Homo sapiens: one gene and its partners. The protein of the gene in region 1 purifies or fractionates together with the protein of each later gene. This does not show direct contact. Each region holds a gene or a part of one and is shown on either strand. Other genes may lie near its edges. The genes, in order: PDIA5, SLC35G2, TSPAN7, MBL2, ACAD11, NOTCH2 and TSR1.

Evidence for each region.
Region 2: the proteins of PDIA5 (region 1) and SLC35G2 fractionate together in Homo sapiens (co-fractionation; one large-scale study listed by BioGRID). This does not show direct contact.
Region 3: the proteins of PDIA5 (region 1) and TSPAN7 fractionate together in Homo sapiens (co-fractionation; one large-scale study listed by BioGRID). This does not show direct contact.
Region 4: the proteins of PDIA5 (region 1) and MBL2 purify together in Homo sapiens (affinity purification with mass spectrometry; one large-scale study listed by BioGRID and IntAct). This does not show direct contact.
Region 5: the proteins of PDIA5 (region 1) and ACAD11 purify together in Homo sapiens (affinity purification with mass spectrometry; one large-scale study listed by BioGRID and IntAct). This does not show direct contact.
Region 6: the proteins of PDIA5 (region 1) and NOTCH2 purify together in Homo sapiens (co-immunoprecipitation; one large-scale study listed by IntAct). This does not show direct contact.
Region 7: the proteins of PDIA5 (region 1) and TSR1 purify together in Homo sapiens (affinity purification with mass spectrometry, with the first as the bait; one large-scale study listed by BioGRID). This does not show direct contact.

Annotation. Positions count from the first base shown.
Region 1 is NC_000003.12:123,073,525-123,077,024, forward strand, and holds part of PDIA5 (protein disulfide-isomerase A5 precursor), read left to right. Parts: intron 1-3,500.
Region 2 is NC_000003.12:136,853,257-136,856,388, forward strand, and holds the end of SLC35G2 (solute carrier family 35 member G2), read left to right. Parts: exon of another isoform or gene 1-1,013; intron 1,014-1,186; 5' UTR 1,187-1,204; coding exon 1,205-2,443; 3' UTR 2,444-2,632; downstream 2,633-3,132.
Region 3 is NC_000023.11:38,683,542-38,686,479, forward strand, and holds part of TSPAN7 (tetraspanin-7), read left to right. Parts: intron 1-2,938. UniProt on the Homo sapiens protein: May be involved in cell proliferation and cell motility.
Region 4 is NC_000010.11:52,769,985-52,774,199, reverse strand, and holds the start of MBL2 (mannose-binding protein C precursor), read left to right. Parts: upstream 1-1,415; 5' UTR 1,416-1,463; intron 1,464-2,540; exon of another isoform or gene 2,541-2,555; 5' UTR 2,556-2,564; coding exon 2,565-2,751; intron 2,752-3,413; coding exon 3,414-3,530; intron 3,531-4,215. UniProt on the Homo sapiens protein: Calcium-dependent lectin involved in innate immune defense. Binds mannose, fucose and N-acetylglucosamine on different microorganisms and activates the lectin complement pathway.
Region 5 is NC_000003.12:132,639,310-132,642,809, forward strand, and holds part of ACAD11 (acyl-CoA dehydrogenase family member 11), read right to left. Parts: intron 3,494-3,500; coding exon 3,368-3,493; intron 2,825-3,367; coding exon 2,663-2,824; intron 348-2,662; coding exon 183-347; intron 1-182. UniProt on the Homo sapiens protein: Acyl-CoA dehydrogenase, that exhibits maximal activity towards saturated C22-CoA.
Region 6 is NC_000001.11:119,961,663-119,965,162, reverse strand, and holds part of NOTCH2 (neurogenic locus notch homolog protein 2 isoform 1 preproprotein), read left to right. Parts: intron 1-1,355; coding exon 1,356-1,589; intron 1,590-3,500. UniProt on the Homo sapiens protein: Functions as a receptor for membrane-bound ligands Jagged-1 (JAG1), Jagged-2 (JAG2) and Delta-1 (DLL1) to regulate cell-fate determination.
Region 7 is NC_000017.11:2,324,177-2,326,457, reverse strand, and holds part of TSR1 (pre-rRNA-processing protein TSR1 homolog), read left to right. Parts: intron 1-1,037; coding exon 1,038-1,154; intron 1,155-1,193; exon of another isoform or gene 1,194-1,628; coding exon 1,629-1,769; exon of another isoform or gene 1,770-1,879; coding exon 1,880-1,954; exon of another isoform or gene 1,955-2,083; coding exon 2,084-2,262; 3' UTR 2,263-2,281. UniProt on the Homo sapiens protein: Required during maturation of the 40S ribosomal subunit in the nucleolus.

The DNA of each region.
Region 1 (3,500 bases):
TATTGCCACCCTACATCAGCAGGGCCTCTTTCCACATACCAGTTTGCAACCACTTCTAAATAATTAGCTTTGTGATCTTACATTGGGGGGTTGAAGACACTCATGGAGTGTGGGGTTAAAAGAGCCTTTATTCCTCAAAGTCATACTGAGGCCCCAGTCTGATGCACATTCCATTCCTAGATGGTGTGATGGTGGGCCTGTGTCTGGCTTCAGAGTTTCCAGCTCACTAGAGTTGCGGGGGCGCAAGGGTGGAGTGTCCATTCCCTGCAAAGAATCCTACAGTTCCTCCAACCCCTTGGCGCAGGCAGATTTCTGGAAGTCGTGAGCAGGTCCTTTAATCCTTGTTGGAAGATGTTGATGAAAATCAAGGTTGAGGGTTGTAAACTGGGGCTTAAACATAAAGGTGATCCAGTATCTGAGCCCAGATGTGGGCCTGGTAGGAAAGCTCTGTTGTTTGGGCCAAGTAGGGAAGGGTCTTGAGGAACGAGTGGGTTTGTTCTCATCACAGGGTCTAGTCTTACTGGGTCCTGGGCAGAGTATTAGTACATGCCCCTATTTCAAAGGAAGGTGGACCAACATCAGCATCCTACATGTGCCACAGATGTTCATTCATTCAACAGATACTTCTTTTTTTTCCCAAATGGATATTTCCTTGAGAATCTTTTATGAGCCAGGCCTCATGCTAAGGCATTGGGGATAACCATAAATAAGACAGACACCATCTCTTTCTCTCATGGCCTAGTGGGACAGCCACTGATTAATTATTTAATTCAGGTAGTAAGTGCTGGAAAGAGAAAGTGTTAATATAATGTGGTAAGAGAATGTATAACAGGGATCCCTAACCTAATTCAAGGAGTCAGGAAAGCCTTCTCTGAGAACCTCTGGGTCTTTCTTAGAATAATGTTTTTAAATGTATAAAGTAAAATGCATAGAATTACAAAGAAAGCAGTTTTATTGAAATACAGTTATCAAAATATAACAACAAGGTTGTGATAAAATAATATTTATGTTTATTAATGCATCATATAAAAAGATCAAAGGTACAAGCTTGATAACTTCTATAATTTTAAGTTGTGATGAGCATAAATAGTGTTTCAGGATATCTTGTAATGTGATAAGAAAATATGATTTCTGTTGGTGGCAAAGTCACAGACACTGCTACCCTAATTACTACTGTAATTTGTTATCTACATTCATAAATGTAGAAAGCATTTATACATTTATAAATACATTCATAATACAGGAAAGGCTAAATTTCAGTTAGAGGTTAGTGAAGATAAAGATGTCATTTTTCTCCATCCAAATTCGTAGACTACAGTGGAAAAAAATTATATAACACTTGGAAATAAAAGATGATTTTGTGACATTTTAGTATCATACTGGAGTATTGTATAAGAAACCACCTAAGGACCAGCTGTGTTCTAGGGGATGTAACTCTGTTTATTATTTTTTATGGGCCATACTTTGTAAAGTTAAGTAGGATGCAAATTATTTCTGTTTGGTAAAGAAGAGAAGCACAAAGATTATTGCCCTGAAGGACATTAACCTGTTGGTATCTAATGTAGCAATCTTATATCAGGATTATATCCTCTTTTTTAGGGTCTCTTATTAGCGAGTTAAGTAAAACTTTGAAATATGCTCAATACCTATTTGTATGAGAATTAGGCTTTTAACATTTTAGAACTGTACTTGACTCCAGTTCAACTGCTGAGTGAGCAGGACGTAAAGATGTGTTGCTTAGAAGAGAGGTCTGATCTGGAGATGTTAATTTAGGGGTGCTGTTCAGGAGAGTGGGTGAAGTTGGCTGGGGGACCATATAGGGTAGGAAGAGAGGGTAGACTGAGTGAGCTGTGGAACTTCAACATTGAAAGAATGGGGAGAGGAGGGTTTACAAAGAAGAAAGGAATGATTGCTAGAGAGGTAGGAGGGAAACCAAGTGTCGCATCCAGTTCAAGAGGCCAAACAAGATGAGAACTGGAAGTGCCTGTAGGGTTTATCTATAGGAGGTCATTGTTGAGCCTTCACCAAGAGCCTTTTTTGTGGTGGTTGTGGGGAGGGCAGATTTCAGAGGGATGAGCAATGGAAGGAGGGAGGAGAATGGGAGGAGCAGGGGAGATGGAAAATTCTGGCTGTGAGTGGAGAGGGGAGTGATATGGGGTCCAGAGAGAGAGTTTTTAAAAGATGGGTCAGTGATGGAGTTTCTTCACCTTAAGGAGATATGTGTAAAATGGATTCCTGGGCTCCCAGCCCCTGGAGATGTTTTTCTTCAAGAATAAAGCCCAGGAATCTGTATTCCCAGAATACCGAGCTCTGCGGTAAAGCTACAAAACTAGACACATTTCCAAGTTAATCTTATATGGCTGGTGGTATTTTGCCAGCCGAGGTGGGTGCTCTCAATTGAGTGTGTAGCACAAGTTCTGCTCACATTGGAGCTGTGTCACCATTGTCTGCTTGGTGTCACTTGGCCTGAGCATGTGCTTTTCTCTGAAGGGATTTGGGGGTTTGTGGACATGCTGGTAGCAGAGGGAAGATGGATCAGGTTGTCATTGTAGCTCTTTTCAGCAGGTCACGCTCAATAGCTGGATTGGAAGGGACAGCAGACTTGCCAGCCTCTCGGGTATTATTCTGGGTGGAGCAACGGGGAGTGGATGATGCTCCAGGGATGTCTGTGGGAACTATTCACATTGACAGCCCAAGAGAAAAGCATCAGATCTGTCCTGGCGGGGACCTGGCTCTACTGTTTTAGGCTTAATCCGAGGCAAATCCCTTCTCTGAGCCTCAGTTTTCACATCTCTAAAGTGGGGATAGTACCACCTCTGCCTATAAACACTCATTGTTTATGACAATTTTTCAACTCCTGCAAGAACAGTTATACATTTTACAGTGTAACCCAGTACACACTGGGCTCACTGAATGCATAGTGTTGCTACCTGTGCTACTCACTGATGTTTTCTAGTCAATGTAATTTTTTAAAAATGCTACTGTAACTCACTGATTTTATGACTAGACTCCTGGGTTGAGACCTGAAGGGTGGAAACAGTGGCTTAGACTCTCAGCTTCAGAGGATGAAATGAGATCATGTGTGTAAAAGCATGGATGTACACCGTGGGTCATGAACACTGAGTTGTTATTTTCTTATCAGTTAACGGAGCTTGGAGGCAGAGTTGATTTCCGGAGTGGGAATTCACCTGCTCTTCCTCCCTCCCTGCTGCCTAATTCAATGTTCCCTCTACCAGTTCTTCCTCGTTAACAGGCCTGGCACACCAAGCTGGCGGTGATCCAGACCCCTCTTGGCTCAAGAAGAGGTTTTCCAAAACATTAAAAGCTTTAGGGACTTAAGTCCTGGCTAAATGCACTGCAGTTGCAATTTCAGGATAAGAAAACCTGTTTTCATAAGCTCTCAGATAAGTTGCCCTGCCCCTGAATTGTCCATTGTTGACAGCAACATTTGTGCCATGGGGAATAAAAAGGGGAGACACTGTGCTGCGTAGCCCCAAATG
Region 2 (3,132 bases), about 14 Mb from region 1:
GGCTAAATTTAGTATTTTTAGTAGAAATGGCATTTCACCATGTTGGCCAGGCTGGCCAACTCCTCTCAAACTTCTGGCCTCAAGTGATCCGCCCGCCTCAGCCTCCCAAAATGCTGGGATTACAGGTGTGAGCCACCGTGCCTACACTGTCATTTTTAATAGATAGCATAGTATTCCATTGTATGAACATTCATTGTAGTAAGCTACAATGAACTCTCCTGTATGTACATTTTCCCCACATTTTTTGGTATATTCTTTTTCTTAAGTAACAGATAAACATTTTAATTCTATTTTTGGATAATATCACAATTCAAAAATAAAAATGTAAAAAAATAAATAACAAAAAGGTTTTCTTCCATTCTTGTTCCTCCTGTCACCTGAACCACCATTAGTTTTCTTGGCATCTTTATATAATTTCTTTGTTATGTAAACAAATATAAATACGTATTCTTATTCCCCCCCTTTTTTATTCAGAATGTAAAAAGCATCTTGTGATCATCTCTTTAGCATAAAATCTTAAAAGTGGTATTGCTGAGTAGAGGATAGTTAAAATCTTAATACATATGGTCCAACTGTTCACGAGAGAGGTTGTACAATTTAACCTTTCTACCAACAATGCATGAGTGTTACTAAATTCATGTTATTTATGTTCTAATTTCAGTGTATTTTTATATCTCAAAACTTATGGGGAGTCCAGAATAAATGTTTAAAAATCACTATAATTTATAAGGTGAATTCTGGTATTATACAGAATTGATTATACAAAATACTTTGGACTTAACTAATAATTTATAACAGGCAAATGGACCCAATGAGAAGGAAAGGTTTGACCTAAGTTATTATTTATCTTTCTGTGTTTTGCTTGTTGGATAGGTGGAGAAACAGGTAGGAATGAAAAGATGGAAAAATCCGTTTGTGGTATAAAGATAGAAGATAGAGCTGAATTAAACAAGTAAGCAAAGAGAAATGGAGACAGACTTCAGATGAGAGTGAAAAAAGGGTAAACAATTCCAGTAGGTACCATACATCTGATAAGGCATATTGCCAGATCATCTCTAATTTCTTTTTTTTCTGGACTACTGTTACAGCCTCTACTTTCTATCATTGAATTGATGCATATGATTATAATAGAAATTAAATTTTCAATGAAATGAATGTCTTTTTGTCAATTTTTTTCTTTAAATAGAATTGATTATCTGAAGAAATGGATACTTCTCCCTCCAGAAAATATCCAGTTAAAAAACGGGTGAAAATACATCCCAACACAGTGATGGTGAAATATACTTCTCATTATCCCCAGCCTGGCGATGATGGATATGAAGAAATCAATGAAGGCTATGGAAATTTTATGGAGGAAAATCCAAAGAAAGGTCTGCTGAGTGAAATGAAAAAAAAAGGGAGAGCTTTCTTTGGAACCATGGATACCCTACCTCCACCAACAGAAGACCCAATGATCAATGAGATTGGACAATTCCAGAGCTTTGCAGAAAAAAACATTTTTCAATCCCGAAAAATGTGGATAGTGCTGTTTGGATCTGCTTTGGCTCATGGATGTGTAGCTCTTATCACTAGGCTTGTTTCTGATCGGTCTAAAGTTCCATCTCTAGAACTGATTTTTATCCGTTCTGTTTTTCAGGTCTTATCTGTGTTAGTTGTGTGTTACTATCAGGAGGCCCCCTTTGGACCCAGTGGATACAGATTACGACTCTTCTTTTATGGTGTATGCAATGTCATTTCTATCACTTGTGCTTATACATCATTTTCAATAGTTCCTCCCAGCAATGGGACCACTATGTGGAGAGCCACAACTACAGTCTTCAGTGCCATTTTGGCTTTTTTACTCGTAGATGAGAAAATGGCTTATGTTGACATGGCTACAGTTGTTTGCAGCATCTTAGGTGTTTGTCTTGTCATGATCCCAAACATTGTTGATGAAGACAATTCTTTGTTAAATGCCTGGAAAGAAGCCTTTGGGTACACCATGACTGTGATGGCTGGACTGACCACTGCTCTCTCAATGATAGTATACAGATCCATCAAGGAGAAGATCAGCATGTGGACTGCACTGTTTACTTTTGGTTGGACTGGGACAATTTGGGGAATATCTACTATGTTTATTCTTCAAGAACCCATCATCCCATTAGATGGAGAAACCTGGAGTTATCTCATTGCTATATGTGTCTGTTCTACTGCAGCATTCTTAGGAGTTTATTATGCCTTGGACAAATTCCATCCAGCTTTGGTTAGCACAGTACAACATTTGGAGATTGTGGTAGCTATGGTCTTGCAGCTTCTCGTGCTGCACATATTTCCTAGCATCTATGATGTTTTTGGAGGGGTAATCATTATGATTAGTGTTTTTGTCCTTGCTGGCTATAAACTTTACTGGAGGAATTTAAGAAAGCAGGACTACCAGGAAATACTAGACTCTCCCATTAAATGAATACCTGATTATTATTGTCTCATTAATGTTCAGTTATTATGTATACTGCCATTTTAATGTTTACCTATGAATGTCTTTTGTGTTATATAACTGACAGAGTGCTATAAAATATATAATATATACAAATGCAGAAAATTTATTCTAGTCTAATATATTCAAATACAAATATTAAATATATGAAATACGTTATGAATCTGGTATCTTTATTGGTATTTATGGGTGTCTTTCCAGGTAAATTGTAGTAGAAGGAGAATGTTAACTGCTATTACTAAATAATAGAAGACTCAAAGAAATGACCCCTTTCAGATGGAACTGAAGTTCAAAAATTAGAAATGTTCTACAAATGTTCAACAAAACTCCTTCATTTGTGAAAAATACACTATAAGGTGAAATGTTGAACACCAAACCCTGTTTTGTCATCTACTTGCATTAGAAAACTAGAAGTCATAGGGCTGGGTAAAGGAGCCTGGGTTGAGGCAAGAAAAGAGGAAAGAAGGGAAAATAAGTGGTTTTTTAATGACAATGGGTGGCTGTCCAAAGTTAGAACAGGAAATTGGTTTTCTCCTTATTATGAGCACATTAGGCGATACATAGGAAATAGAAATAGGGAGAAGTGTGGATTCTTGCCAGTCCTACCTAGCCCATGCCATTTTGTCCCTGATGTTTGGAGACCTAACGTTGGGGTAGGG
Region 3 (2,938 bases), on another chromosome or scaffold:
ATGGTGCCCATACTGCTCACCCATGTGGCCAGGCAGGTCCAGCAGGGCAGAGACTTGAGACCTGCTCCCAGGTTCAGGCAGGAAGAGAAATGGCTATGGCTGGCTTCTGCCAGCCAGATGCACCAGGAACTGCAGCTATTTATGGTGCTGTCAGCCTCAGGGGTCCTGAAAGCTGAAGTTGGCTTCCAGACGTCCATAGATCCAGGGCATCCCTGGGACAATGGTGGCCACTTACCAGATGCCTGTTCACAAAGAACCAGCCCTACTGATTCTGGTCAGTGACCTGGAACCAGACCTTTGGCTACATGTGTTCAGAAATTTTAGAGCCAATGTCATAGTAAAATTTAGCAAATGTTGGCTGATATTGATGAACCAGTTGTGTTGGCCTATGCCTTAGCCTTCCTATAATAAAGAAGGCTCTACTAAGTTAGAGGCCACAGAGAGGACAAAGTAGGTAGGAAAGAACAGAGCTCGCTCTCTCTCTTCCTCCCTCCCACTTTTGCTCTCCTGCCCTCGACCTTTTTCTTGCCCTTTGCTTTGCTTGCTCTTGTGACCTCCGTGCTATCATCTTTTGGAAGAAACTGGCCATGCACATCTATTGTCTCAAAGATTAAAGGTGGTATAAAGTATTAGGAAAACTAAGCTGGGTCTAGCCTTTTAATAGACTGGGCAAGAACTTTGTCCCCTGTTAGCTAACTTAGCTAATTGAAAGCTCCTGAGTGCTGTTTTTGAACAGCAGCAGGGTTGTGTCAAGCATTAAACACTTCTCTCTACAAACGTCCATTACCTTTGCCCTCTCAAGGTAAACCTCATTTGTCTGGACTTGATGGGCAGGGTCTGCTGCCCTATAAATTTATAGCAGAAGGTTGAGTGTGTTTAGTAGGGTACCTCTTCGCTGCATCTTTGGCAACTGCTCTTTCACTCGAGGGCTTGTGGGGAGAGTGAGAGATGGAGCATGCACGCACATCACCCCTGTCCTATCCCCACCCCCAAAATGGCCTGGAAGACAAGAGCCATGGGATGTCTGGGCATGGACATGTTTATTGTTCAATTTGTGACATTGTGTATATGTACATATGCATGTGTGTCTGTGGTGGGGTGGTGGGGTGTCCTCTGGGCTTCTGTATTTAGTACTTCTGTGTCTAAATAGACCCAGGGCTTTGCTAGACTTGGAACCTGTTAGGCTGGATTAATTCCCCATATCACGTAATATTATAGTCCTGAGTAAAGACAGTAGAGCTGTTTTCCAGAAGGGGAGGGTTGAGTGACTCGCTTGAAGTTGGGCAGCTACTATAGATCCAGGATTATAATTCTGACCTCTTCACCTGGCTTGCTGTATTAACTTTTAAGGCCAGAGATCACCCTTGTTCCTGCCACTGATAGCACCTGAAGGGAATTCATTTTGTGCTTTTATAACAAAAAGACTTCAGTCTGTGAAATTCAAAAGGAAAAGGTACTCATAAGAAAACACAGACCCTATTACTACCCATCCATTTTCTAACCCTCACCCTCCTGTCTGGCCTCCTCCAGGGTCTAAATGCTGCTAAGGTGATTCATTATGTGCTGGTCATTCTTTTCTTTTGGGGGGCCCTTGAGAAGACCTGTTTACCTTTTCTATGTAGAGGGCAGGACAGAGCTGGGGCTATTCTTAGATAGGACAAGAGGGTACAACCTTAAGCTCTGAGAATTACCTGTGTAGCTTGGGGTGTATTCTTTAACCTCTCATAACCCTCAGTTTTCTTATCTGGAAAACTGAGATTGTAATATTGTACAGGTTGTGGTAAATATTCAGTACAGGCTAGGTACAGTGGCTCATGCCTGTAATCCCAGCACTTTGGGAGGCTGAGGCAGGCACATCACTTGAGCCCAGGAGTTCAAGACCAGCCCGGTCAACATGGCAAAACCCCATCTCTACTAAAAATACAAAAATTAGCTGAATGTGGTGGCGCACAAATGTAATCCCAGCTACTCAGGAGGCTGAGGCAGGAGAATCACTTCAACCTGGAAGGTGGAGGTTGTAGTGAGCCGAGATTGCACCACTGCACTCCAGCCTGGATATTCAATATAGTCATCACTCCGTATCTGCAGGTTCTGTATCCATGGATTCAACCAACTATGGATTGAAAATAACAGTACAACAAAAAATAATGCAAATAAAAGCAATATAGTATAGCAACTATTTACACAGCATTTACATTGTATTAGGTATTATGAGTAATCTTGAGATGACTTAAAATATAAAGGAGGATGTGCATGGGTTATATGCAAATATTACACCATTTTGTATCAAGGACTTGAGCATCCTAGGATTTTGCTATCCTTGGGAAGTCCTGGAACCAATCTCCAACAGATACTAAGGGATGACTGTAATCTGTTCTACCTGAATGTGTTATATACCTCTGACACTTATTTGATTTTTGACATTATCAAGTGTGTTCTGGTGTTTGTTGGTTCTGGAAAATGGAAGTTCTAATAAAAAAGACAAGCTATAAGGTTCAAGGTCGTTACACTCATATTTTAGTTTCTCATTTGGCAGAATATTCTAAAGGTTACAGCCATGGTATCTTCAGCCACTTGGCAGTAAGTGCATGCGACTATGTATTTTATGGCACCAAATGATGTTGGCCAGAGCCTTGGTAGGAGATAGAACGAGTCCAATAAGATGATGATGCCTCCTTACCTGAAAGCGGTTATAGTTTGCATATTTCACAGCACAATTTTAATTTGAAAAAGGAAGATAAGAGATGAGAACTGGAACCTGCATGGATAGGTTAAGAGCCAGGAGAATGGAGTTCAGGTGTTGCCCTGACCAACAGTGGGACCTGAAGTGGCAGCAGGTGTTTCACCTATAAGATAAGGGTGACTAGGTGGACTGGATGAGCAGTTCCCTGCCCTGGAAGACTTGTTAAAACACCAGTTACTGGGCCCCACCCCCCAG
Region 4 (4,215 bases), on another chromosome or scaffold:
GATGGTTCAAGCCATTAACACACACGATACCCATGATCTTATAGTGCCAAGTGCTGTTCTTTTGCTTCTTATCTCAGTTGAGTGGCTCCTAGATAGTCAAGTCATAAATGTGTGTGCCCATGAAAACTTCTTATTATCACTCACTATTCTAGCTAATTCTCAAGTGCAATCAATACCTCCTGTTTCTCAAGTGTGCCTACCTTCTTAATCTAGCTGCCATTACCCTGACCCAGGCCACTGTCTTCTGCTGCTTAGATCATGGCAAGCACTTCCTTTTAGATCTGCTTTTCTCCAGTCCTGTTCCCCTCAACATCATAGCCAGAACAAGCCTTGCAAAATTCAAATGTGATCACCTCTCCACTACTGCAGTCCCTCTAGTGCCCCCTGGAAGGAAACCCAAAGTCTTTAACACAGTTTACAATTCTTGTTATGAGGATGAAATTTGAAGACATTGTGCTAAGTGAAATAAGCCAGATACAAGGGGGCTATTGTATGATTTCACATATATGAGGTACCTAGGATAGATGAATTCAGAGAGACAGAAAGTAAAACAGAAGTTACCAGTGGCTGTGGGTAGGGGTAAATGGAGAATTCTAGTTTAATGAGTTGAGAGTTTCAGTTTGGGATGATGAAAATCATCCCATGATGTGGTGATGATAGCACAACCGTGTGAATGTACTTAATGCTACTGAGTTGTGTGCTTAATAATAATGGTCAAAATGGTAAATTTTATGTCTATTTTACCACAATGAAAAACTGGAAAAGTAAAGTCAATGACTATAATATCATAAAGTGTAAGTAACATGAGAGAAAATAATTCAGGCTAAGAGGATAGAGACTGCTAGGTAGGACTATTTTAGAATAAGTGATCAAGGTACTGATTTCTCTGAAATTGGAATATTTGAATAGAAGAGAAAGAGCTAGCTGGCGATGCCCGTAAGGGGTCCAGGCATGGAGACATCAAATGAAGAGTCTGAGGCAGGAATGGCCTTAATGCATTAATGGCAGCAAGAGGTCTATGTGGTTTCATGGATGGGTGTGTGCGTGCATGCACGTGTCTGTGTGTATAGTTGGTGTGCATGAGCATGTGTATGCATTTGTGAGTATCTTTGTTTTTCTGTTGGAAACAAGGATGTCAACAGGACTAACTAGGTGAACCTAGCTGTGGTAGTTCAGCAATGAGATTTGCCAAAATGGATGGCAATTGAAAGAGGAATTGTGCTGTATTAAAGCAGACAGCTGCCGAGCACTGTATTGGAGGCTCCTAAATTTCTCATAGTTCTGAGAAGAGCTGTTTATTAATCTGGAGTTGAAGGCCAGGCCCAGGATATCCTTGTTCACAAGGTTGATTGGGCCCTACATTGCTGAGCCCAGCCTCCTCCCTCACTCTGAGGCATCTGCCAGAGCCCCAGGCTAGAGGGCCAGCGTCCTTGTCACTGAGTCCCTGCTCTGCAGAAACACCAGTAAGTCATTTCTGGTGAATAAATCTGGGTTTCCGGATCAAGGGTTTGGGGAGCTGACATGACCCTGGAGGCATGGAGGAGGCTTTCTAGGGGTGGGGGGAGTGGGATGGAAAGCAGAAATCAGGTTGAGGATGTCTCTTTTTCTGCTTGTGCTGGAGCATCTGTGACTTTCCTCCATTATCTGTTCATCTGCAGTGGAGACTGTCTTTGTTTTCAAAGGGAAACTTGGAGGCTTAGACCTATGGGGCTAGGCTGCTGAGGTTTCTTAGGGGGCAATAGCTGGAAGAAAGCTCTGAAGAACAAATGAAAGGTTAATACTGAGAAATGGGAGGAGGATTCAAGGCAAGTTTTCTAATTGCCAGTGGTTTTTGACTCACAGAACATGGGGAATTCCTGCCAGAAAGTAGAGAGGTATTTAGCACTCTGCCAGGGCCAACGTAGTAAGAAATTTCCAGAGAAAATGCTTACCCAGGCAAGCCTGTCTAAAACACCAAGGGGAAGCAAACTCCAGTTAATTCTGGGCTGGGTTGGTGACTAAGGTTGAGGTTGATCTGAGGTTGAGACCTTCCTCTTTGGATCACCAGCTTTCAGCTCAGGGCCTGCCAATGAGTAAATGATAGTTAACAGGTCCTGGAGGGGAATCAGCTGCCCAGATACAAAGATGGGATTCAGGTGGCAGATGGACCCGAAGAGGACATGGAGAGAAAGAGGAAGCTCCTACAGACACCTGGGTTTCCACTCATTCTCATTCCCTAAGCTAACAGGCATAAGCCAGCTGGCAATGCACGGTCCCATTTGTTCTCACTGCCACCGAAAGCATGTTTATAGTCTTCCAGCAGCAACGCCAGGTGTCTAGGCACAGATGAACCCCTCCTTAGGATCCCCACTGCTCATCATAGTGCCTACCTTTGTTAAAGTACTAGTCACGCAGTGTCACAAGGAATGTTTACTTTTCCAAATCCCCAGCTAGAGGCCAGGGATGGGTCATCTATTTCTATATAGCCTGCACCCAGATTGTAGGACAGAGGGCATGCTCGGTAAATATGTGTTCATTAACTGAGATTAACCTTCCCTGAGTTTTCTCACACCAAGGTGAGGACCATGTCCCTGTTTCCATCACTCCCTCTCCTTCTCCTGAGTATGGTGGCAGCGTCTTACTCAGAAACTGTGACCTGTGAGGATGCCCAAAAGACCTGCCCTGCAGTGATTGCCTGTAGCTCTCCAGGCATCAACGGCTTCCCAGGCAAAGATGGGCGTGATGGCACCAAGGGAGAAAAGGGGGAACCAGGTACGTGTTGGGCTGTTCTGTCTCTGCAATTCTTTACCTTCCAGAGGAAACTGCCTGGGGATATGAGGAGACTGATGTCCTATTTGAGTATATTTTTCTCAACTATACTGTAACTCAAAACAGAGATTCAGCTCTCATTCTCTGGCATCTCAGAATTCCACACAGCAGTTTGTGACTAATAGTTGTCTTGCCAGCCCAGGAAAGTGGCCCACAGGTCAGGCCATCCCGTGGGACACAGGATGAATTTTTCTTCTCTGGGTCATTGTCATGTCAGACCCCTATTCACTTCAGTAGGGATGGCACCAGGTTCAAGAGGCCAAAGAAGAGATGGAGTCAGCAAACAAACATAGGTTTTACTGGGGGAATCTGTTTACAGGGAGATCCAGCAGCAGTGGGCTGGACAGGAGAACAACAACTACTGGTAAAAACAAATGCAGTTAATTTTCACTTTGCACCCTCCCTGCAGCAACCTCCACGTGGCAACTTTATTTCTTAAGTTATTGCTCTCAGGTGCCCACCATACAGTTATTGAGAGCAGTGCTCAGAAAGGTCAGTCCTGGGTCAAGGTCTCCTTTCTCCTGAGAAGGGATTGGGCATCAAACTCTTGAAGAGAGAGAGCAAGAACATAGATATTAAGTCACATTTCCTTTGTCTTCCAACAGGCCAAGGGCTCAGAGGCTTACAGGGCCCCCCTGGAAAGTTGGGGCCTCCAGGAAATCCAGGGCCTTCTGGGTCACCAGGACCAAAGGGCCAAAAAGGAGACCCTGGAAAAAGTCCGGGTAAGGACCCCAGCAAGGTCTGAGCTGACTTCACCCAGGGTTCTGAGACCTTGAGTATCTGGTAAGAGGTGCCCCTTCTCCTGTTCCTTCAAAGGAAGATACCCAAATTTGCTTTCTGACCCAGTGCCCTCAGCCCTCTCTTCATTCTTAGAGCCTTAGGGAATTCCTATAAGTGCCTGAGTACAGACTTACAAACTTTTCAAGACAACTCCCTCATCAGGCACTCCCTGTAAGAGCTGAGCCTGGATTCTCCATCAGCTGAAACAGTCTAATGTGAGGCCCTGGTCCTAGAGGGAGAAAACAGGCCATCTAAGTGTGGGCTTATTATACCTATTTTTACAAAAGCATGTAACCATGGTATGTCATATTTTACTTCATAAGAAACCAAGCCAAAGCTTAATAGCTTAAAAACATAGCCGTCAATTTAAATCACAAGTCTGTGGGTCGGCCATGTGATTTCTCTGCTGGTTTAAGCTGGGCTTACCCACATGTCTGTGGTCAACTGATGGCCAATAGTCTCACTCATGTGTCTGGCTGTTGTCTGAATGTTAGCTGGAGTGATGAGGGTAATTGAACCACATCTCTCATCATCCAACAGGGCTTGTTCACATAGCAGTGATTACAGGATTCCCAAGAGTAGAAATAAGATAGGCTTTAGGCTTCTTGAAGACTCAGAGCACATTAT
Region 5 (3,500 bases), 9.6 Mb from region 1:
CTAACTTATGCTGGAAAATCTGCAGGACTCCTTTCTAAAAATTTTGAGTGGTGACGACAGTCCTGAGCTGTAGGGGAACAGGGAGTGGGTTGGGCTCCCTCAGTGCTCTGGGGGGAGCATTTACTTAGTACTGTGTCACAAAACAGACCTACTCAATTAATTGTAAACATAGCTAACTGTACCTCTTTAGGGTGGAAAACTATGTTATCTAGTCTGAAATCTCCATGAATCAAATTCTCTTCATTGTCATTATCGGGCAAGTTCTTCATTAGCCACTCCGATAGCTGTTGCATGGCAGGGATGTCCTGATGAGCTGCAGCTTGATATTGCTTTGTCCAGGTTGATACCTAAAGACATATAAATAAGAAAAATGGTAAAGCTGAAACTGGAATGTAGGATCTAGCAATTCTAAAATTAAAACAAAATTCAAATGCTGTTTTACTCCTAAATACTTAAGACCCATGCTGGTGATACTCCTGTCATCCTAAAACACTCAAATCAGCCTAAACCTTAAACATTTAAGTCTCTTTTCCATATAGTTCCATTTTACTTACCTAGTTTTTTATCAAGAGAAAAATACTGGCCTAGGGATCAAGAGATATGGGTTCTAGTCTTTATTCAGCAACTACTTTGTAGAAGAAAAAAAAAGAATGCATACAAACACACACACGCACACACACACTCTCTCTCACACACACACACACACACACAAATATATAGGCATAGATAATCTCTGGAAAGGGTCACGAGAAATAAGTAACCCCTGAAAAAGGGAATATGGGGACTAGAAGAAAAAAGAAGACATTTACTTTTTTTTTTTTTGAGACAGAGTCTCGCTCTGTTGCCCAGGCTGGAGTGCTACCTCCACCTCCCAGGTTCAAGTGATTCTCCTGCCTCAGCCTCCTAAGTAGCTGGGATTACAGATGCATACCACCACACCCAGCTAATTTTTGTATTTTTAGTAGAGACGGAGTTTCACCATATTGGTCAAGCTGGTCTCGAACTCCTGACTTCGTGATCCGCCTGCCTTGGCCTTCCAAAGTCCTGGGATTACAAGCTTCAGCCACCGCGCCCAGCCTACTTTTCATTTTAATACTCTTTCTTATTACCCACAGAATTTTCTAAATATTTTACAGGTATGAATAGTGTAAAGATCTTCTATTGTTCTTAGAATTGAATGCAAACAAATCAACTTACTCGTAAAGTCCTCCAACAGGTGGGACCATATTGTTTATTTGCTTTTTTATCTCCATTTCCCGAGGTATCTTTGCTCAACTTAGTGCAATAGAGCAAAGACCTTTACTTGGTCTTATCTAGTCATATCAACCTGGGTTTAAATTATATCTAAGCCACTTACTTGTGTATTACTTGATTGATGCAAGCCTCCCTTTCTTCATCTGCAAAATGGGAGTAATAATACCTATATCTTAGAGTTGTTGTAAAGATCAAAAAAGAGAGGCCGACAACTCACTCTGCCATGTAGGACCTAGCATATAGTGAGTACACTCTAAACTTTAGTTCCCTTTTCTCTTCCTTAACCCCCACAAAATGATATGCTTACAAAGGAAAGCAGCCCCATATATATCTAGTATTGCTTTCCTTTAATTTAAAATGATCTCCATCACTCCAAATTTTATCTTTCCTTAAATACTCATTATAAGATATCTCTCCCAGGAAGCTTTCTCTATATAAGCAAGGGCATCCCAACTTCCACCCTTTGAATCATGGTGAGTATCAAACAATTTACCACTAGATTTTACACTCTTTTATACCATTTTCAGGTTTCGTGAATGACATGCATGTACAGGTCTCTCAAAAATGACCATAAGTTCCTGTGGGGAAGAACCTATTGTATATTTTTCTTGATATTTAACACAGTACTCAGCAGGTATTAAACACACAGTCAAGCTTAATAAATGTCTGCTAGTCCAATTGAGAAAGAAAAAACTGTAAGCCGGGCATGGTGGCTCACGCCTGTAATTCCAGCACTTTGGGAGGCTGAGGCGGGCGGATCACGAGGTCAGGAGATTGAGACCATCCTGGCTAACACGGTGAAACCCCATGTCTACTAAAAATACAAAAAAATTAGCAGGGCGTGATGGCGGGAGCCTGTAGTCCCAGCTGCTCGGGAGGCTGAGGTAGGAGAATGGCGTGAACCTGGGAGGTGGAGCTTGCAGTGAGCAGAGATTGCACCACTGCACTCCAGCCTGGGCAACAGAGGGAGACTCTGTCTCAAAATGATGATGATGATGAAGAAGAAGAAGAAGAAGAAGAAGAAGAAGAAGAAGAAGAAGAGGAGGAAGAAGAGGAGGAAGAAGAGGAGGAAGAAGAGGAAGAAGAGGAGGAAGAAGAGGAGGAAGAAGAGGAAGAGGAAGAGGAAGAGGAAGAGGAAGAAGAAGAAGAAGAAGAAGAAGAAGAAGAAAAAACTGTATAGTTAAAAGTATTGGAAAATTAAGAGTCTAAAACAGAAGATTTTGCTGAACAAAACCTAATATAAAAACATAAGATAATTTTATACTAAAAACTAGTCATTCTGAAGGACAATGTTAAAAGTCATGGCCAAGCTTCAGAAAACTATACAATAATAGCTTTTTTTGTTGACTAATAAGGTATATTATTTACAAGAACTTGAAAAAAATAGCTATTAATGTGGATGCATTACCTGTCTTTTGCAGTACCCAGCACCTATACCATATCCTTCCAGCTGCAGTGACTGTATATTCAAGGAATGTAACTGAGCCAATGTTTCTACCGTGGCCACATATATGGCTGAACGTTCTGCTGGGCTAAGTCCAGGAATTGTTAAATCACGGAAGATTCGACCCTATGGAAGTGATTACAACAGATTATTTAAATGTGTATAATCAATACTTTGTCGAATATACTAGAAAAACATTCATTTGTGAAACATATTTAATATTAGAGTATACATGCCAAAGGGAAAATAAAAGGATATGCCAAGATGAATATAAACATCAAAACTACTCTCAACTATTTTACAGAAAAAATTTAAAACACATTTTGAATTTATTGTTCTTAATGGCTTGACCTATGTGGAGTCTGTTTTCCCTGCTACCTTATGGACAATTTGGTTATTGCCATTACAGATAGCTCTTTACTGACACCTAGAGGAAAATTTAAGAATAAGTCAATACCCCCTAATTACTAAATTTGTTTCTTGTCTATTCCATCCCTCCCTTTGTAAGTGCTCAAATTTGAACAAAATTGTAAACCTTTGCAATGCAATCTAATTACCTAAAATGTTAAATAACAAACTATATCATTTATTAAGTATCATAATAAAACATCTTAATTAACTTCATAATTAAAAGTAAAAGCAACAAAATAAGATTAAGTGTTAATTTACCTGCACATGTTCCATTACGTAAAATTCTGTTCCAATGACAGAAGTATCACTGCAGTACAGTATAGGCTTGGGAACGGGGAATCCAATTGAAAACAAGGCTTTCTGGACTTTAAATTCTCTATCAATCTAAATA
Region 6 (3,500 bases), on another chromosome or scaffold:
AAAGAGAAGAAATCCAGTTGAAAGCTATTTTTCACTGGGGCTTCTCAGCAGGAGGCCTGGCTCTGTGTTTCTTGAAGCAAGTGACTGAAAGAAGGCCCAGAAATTTAAAGGCTGAATGTGTACAAGTGCAGGGGTATTCTGCATAAAAGACACCAAAATAGGATTGAGAGTCAAGTGTGTAAATGACAGGAGAGAGAGCTCTCACTGGGAAAGTTTGGGTCCTCTTTGCTGACTTCTGCAACTAGAGTCAAAAACGATCTGTGCACAAATATTCTGCATTTCTGGGTTTGTAATCACATTTTGTACTTGGGATTGGATTTCAGTAAGCCAGATGTTCCCTATTACACATTTCCTTTTACACAGGCAAATATTATACAGAAAGGCTAGAAATTATTAGAAGTGAACTTCTTTATTATCTGACTGCTTGAGAAAGAAGTTATTTATGTAATTCAAGACATTAATTTTAGAGAATGGAGTCTTAAAGATTAAAGGCATCATGCATATAATTTATTTCTGATCACAGAAAAGCAAATTTAATTGTGAAAATTAATACAAAAAGTTAATATTTTAATTATTAGACCTACTTAGTTTAGGACAACTCAGATGAGCCACTTTCTTTCTTTTTGCAAATAGTTAATGCTTGTCAGAGAATCCAGATTTTGTCTTCCCCTGGCCAGATTCTTCTTGTAGAGGATAAGTTTCAAAGAGATTAAAAACCTTTAGCTCAGGTTTAAAAGTGGGGGGAGGACTCCTGGAGTCTTTTAGGGAAAGATATAATGTTTGTCTATTTACACCTCGAAGAAAGGAAATCTTACTTGTCTCTTTTTCTTTTAAATTCTCATAACAGGTTCATTCATTTTATTCAACCAGTATTTATTTAAAACTACTATATATGCATACTACTCTCAGAGGAGTTGAGAGAAGTAAAATAAAGCTCTCTTACCTCCAAAGTCAGAATTGGGGACATAAGATACATGAAATCATTAACCTGTATATTGGACTTGGGAAGAAAGAAATACAAAGATAAATATATAAAGGAAAAATATTTTGAGCTGTTATACCTGAAGCCTAGTAAGAAATGAAGGTGCAGTTAAAGCATCTCTGCAATGAAATTATTGATCAGTTGCGAAGGTATTTCAATTCTAAAATTTGATTTGGAAATCTTTATTTTAAGCACCTCTCTCCAGGCATACTTTCTAAATCAATGCAGATCGTCGTTTTCTACTGCTCAAGACCTGCAGTATTAATTGACCACACATCGAATGTGTAGAGTAAATGGATGTAGCTACACTTGTGTTCTGGTGTGGAATATCTGCCTTGGTCTTTGAGAATCCTTGATAAAATTCTTTCCAAAGGTTTCACTGGTGTGTTGTGTGAGGAGAACATTGACAACTGTGACCCCGATCCTTGCCACCATGGTCAGTGTCAGGATGGTATTGATTCCTACACCTGCATCTGCAATCCCGGGTACATGGGCGCCATCTGCAGTGACCAGATTGATGAATGTTACAGCAGCCCTTGCCTGAACGATGGTCGCTGCATTGACCTGGTCAATGGCTACCAGTGCAACTGCCAGCCAGGCACGTCAGGTAAGCCCACTCTGTTTATGTTTGGTATGGGGTTTTCACTGTTTCTCAAATCTGTTTACACAGATGTTTCAGACTGTTGGCATATGCTCAGATACCTAAAAAACAGTCCTGATTCTGAGAAGCACAGCCAAAGCCACAAACATAAATGTCTCAAGGCAAATGGCCCTAGCCAGTGGAGAAGTCAGAGACAATAGCTCTGCCAATCTGATGATTTTGTGTGTGTGTTTGTGTGTGTTTTGTTAAATAGAGGCATACCACTTCAAAAATTAAAATTAATGATTTAAAATTGAAAACCCTCTTTTTTGTGGCTATATTATCTTTTTTTCTTTAAGTTCCACCCCACCCAGATTAATAAATTCAGTCCTTCCTTCCTTCCTTCCTTCCTTCCTTCCTACCTACCTTCCTTCTTCCCTTCTTCCCTTCCTTTAATGTATTTTCTCTTTCACAGTTCAGTCTCTTTATTGTGACATGTTTCTTCAGTCACTTGTCTCTGGTGGGGCCTTAGCCATCTTGGGGGATTCTAAGGAAGAGGAGATACCTTACAACACACCACAGTAACTAAAGTAGAACGCAGAGCTGTCATTTCCTATCCTCGGAGTTCATCATTGTTCTCTGACCTTGGTTGAATGACTCCTTGTTGGTCGTGAGGACATGCTGCTCCTTTCTGGGGGGATGTGGAATTATTTTCTCAGGCAGCAGCATCTCACAGGTTTGGATGGTTCTGTTTTACTTATTAGATGAATGATTATGGTCACAACTATGGTTAGTGGACAGAGATGTACTATGTTCCAGATCAAAGGAAAATGTATTAGTGGAAGATTAACCAATGTGTGCCTTTGTTAGAAGGAAACCTGCCAATATAAAGGAGTGATTTATTGAGAACTCATTCTGGATGTAAGGAAAATGACCTATGTAGAGAGCAGAGGTGGAGAGGGTAGTTAGCTACCCTCATTTTCTTTTACTGTTTCCAAATCCATTTCTTCAAATTTGTCAAAGGCTCTGGTCTTTACCCAAGGCTTCATACATGCCAAGTTTGAAAACAAAGTCCTTTTTGAATTGCTCAAGCATACGAAAAACATCCCATGCCGTCACAGCTGAAAATGCCTTTCCCTCCCCACATTTAGATAACTCACTAAAAGGGCTGAATAGATCTTTGTGAAAACTTCCAAAAGCAATTTGCTTCCGGGCTGTTCCTCAGACATGAGAAATTATAGTAGGAAAAGAAATTTGAGAGATTTACAAGCAATTGACTGGATGTCTTTAGAATCGAGGGGCTTTAGACTTTGCTATCATTCCCATCATAATAAACATACTGGAAACCTGGGTGAGTGGTGGGTTGGCAAGCACTTTGTTTTCTCTGGCATTATATCATTATACCAGGATATATCAGGTGTTTTCTGGGGAGGACAGAGAGGGTATGGTATAAGTAGCTGTCACTGAGAAGGTGAGAAGTCAATATGAGTGATCTGTAGGCAGCATGGAAAGGAAGGCCCGGAATCTGTCAGAACCTGCCAAAGATGTTCCTGCAGTTATTTGGAGAATTAAAGCAAGCAACGGTCAGACAACATTAAAAAAATGTTGATCTGTAATGGGTGGAGAAAGACCTGGCATGTATCAGGGACCTGGGTGGAAAATCCATTAAAAGAGGCATTATGAATAGAGTCTGAAGTTCTAGAGTAAGAATTCCTGTTCCACTTATATGGCCTAAGTTGGTAGTTTGGTGTTTGGATAGGGGAGTGGATGGAAGAAATATTTTACAGTTTGTCAGCTAAAATTGTGGTAGTCACTCACTGGGTACTTAAAGTGAGATATACTACCCAGAGTTACCTTCAGTGCGTTCTCTCATCTGTGCTTTTATGATAGTAAAGTTTTAAGTAAGTTTCTTTGTGTTTCAAGTAACAGACCAACTTG
Region 7 (2,281 bases), on another chromosome or scaffold:
AGCAGAGGTAGGGGTCCTGAGATACTGAGAGACTACTGGACGGGACTTGCAGCAGAAATGATTGTCTCCTACACAGTAGGAGCAGGAAGATATGTTGCCCACTAACTTGGGGGCTTCTGAACATCGTCCTAGTTCACTCACTCTCAGCAGTGGCAGGAGGAATATGAAGAAAGCAGTATTAATGGTGTTTTGGATAATTTTTATTCTCACCAATTGTGAGAATCACAATCTCTAAGTGAGATTAATTTTTCTTTGCCTTAAAATATTTTATTTTCCTTTAAGTTTAGTATTTTAAAAAGGAGGTGAGGGCTACCTTGAAGGTAGAACATCAAATACAGTCTAGGCTCCAAGATTCTGACTCCAGATAAAAAAGTTACTGATCAGGCACCTGCAATTCCAGCTATTCGGGAGCCTGAGGCAGAAGAATCACTTGAACCTGGGAGGTGGAGGTTGCAGTGAGCAGAGATGGCACCATTGTACTCCAGCCTGGGCAACAAGAGCGAGACACCATCTCAAAATAAATAAATAAATAAAAAGTTACTGATACAGCCTGGCGCGGTGGCTCACGCCTGTAATCCCAGCACTTTGGGAGATTGAGGTGGGTGGATCACAAGGTGAGGAGTTCGAGACCAGCCTGGCCAACATGGTGAAACCCGGTCTCTACTAAAAATACAAAAATTAGCCGGGCGTGGTGGCATGTGCCTGTAATCCCAGCTACTCAGGAGGCTGAGGCAGGAGAACTGCTTGAACCCGGGAGGCAGAGGTTGCAGTCAGCTGAGATCACACCATTGCATTCCAGCCTGGGTGACAGGAACGATACTCAAACTCAAAAAAAAAGAAAAAAAAAAAGTTACTGATAGGACTAGATCGTATCTTTTAGGTGCATTGAGGCAGCGAAAATTTTTGAGAACTGGTGGTTTAGAGAAGTAGAAGCTGCCATAGGTTTAAGAGTTGCACTAATACAGCTTTTCACAGGCCTCTATCACCTCTGGTTTCTCAAAATGGTTTTGCTTTTCATTTTTTAACCCTTATGGCAGCGGACAAACATAAATTGCAGAGATTCCTGACTGCTGACATGGCCCTGGTGGCGACAGTCTATGCGCCAATCACTTTTCCTCCTGCATCTGTGCTGCTTTTCAAGCAAAAAAGCAATGGTAAGTTGAGCCACAGAGATGAACAGACCCTGCAGGTCCTTAATAGATGAACACCGTTTTCTCTTGTTTATTTAAATTTGGGAGCCAAATGGTATGGAGAAGGTAATGATGGTTTTCAAAATACAGTAAGTCTTCATTTAACATTGTTAATAGAACAATGAAAACTCCAACTTTTACGTGAAACAGTGTATAGCCAGTCCTCAAATAACTGCCTTTTGTTCAACATCCTTTCCTTGTAACAACTGATGAGAAAAAGTATGGTTTTGTTATACATCATTTCTCTTGAAGTACAAGTTTTCAAGAACCTATTGACAAGGTTAAGTGTGGGCTTACAGTTTACCAATCTTAGCCTCAGATTGGGCTAGGGCAGGGATGACAAACCAGGCTCTTGCATGGGTCTTTAAATGGACTGGGCAATAAATGAAGACTTTGGCCTGTAAATTCCTAAATAGCTTCTTTGCTTTTGTCCTTTAGGAATGCACAGCCTCATTGCTACAGGCCATCTTATGTCAGTAGATCCAGACAGAATGGTCATCAAGAGAGTTGTTCTGAGTGGTCATCCTTTCAAAATTTTTACTAAGATGGCAGTAGTACGTTACATGTTCTTCAACAGAGGTGGGTATGAAGGAGGAGGATGGGATCTGATTGCCTTTGTGGTATAAAGGTTGGGTTTACATTTTGTGGGTAAATGTTTCATCTTGGTCTTTAATGTGTTTGATTCTAAGAGGATGTGCTGTGGTTTAAACCAGTGGAACTGAGAACGAAGTGGGGCCGGAGAGGACATATCAAGGAACCTTTAGGTAAGGAAACACGGGATTTGAGACCATGTCTGCATTTCTGCAGTGTTGCTAAATGACTGTTGGGTTGGAAGTCATTGCTTTAAAATTTTCTACTTTTAATTTGACCGACTTGTTCTGATGTCTTTCTAGGTACCCATGGCCACATGAAATGCAGCTTTGATGGGAAGCTAAAATCTCAAGACACAGTACTGATGAACCTGTATAAACGAGTCTTCCCCAAATGGACTTATGATCCATATGTACCAGAACCAGTACCCTGGCTGAAAAGTGAGATTTCTTCAACAGTGCCTCAAGGGGGCATGGAGTAATGGATTCAAAGAGATTCTG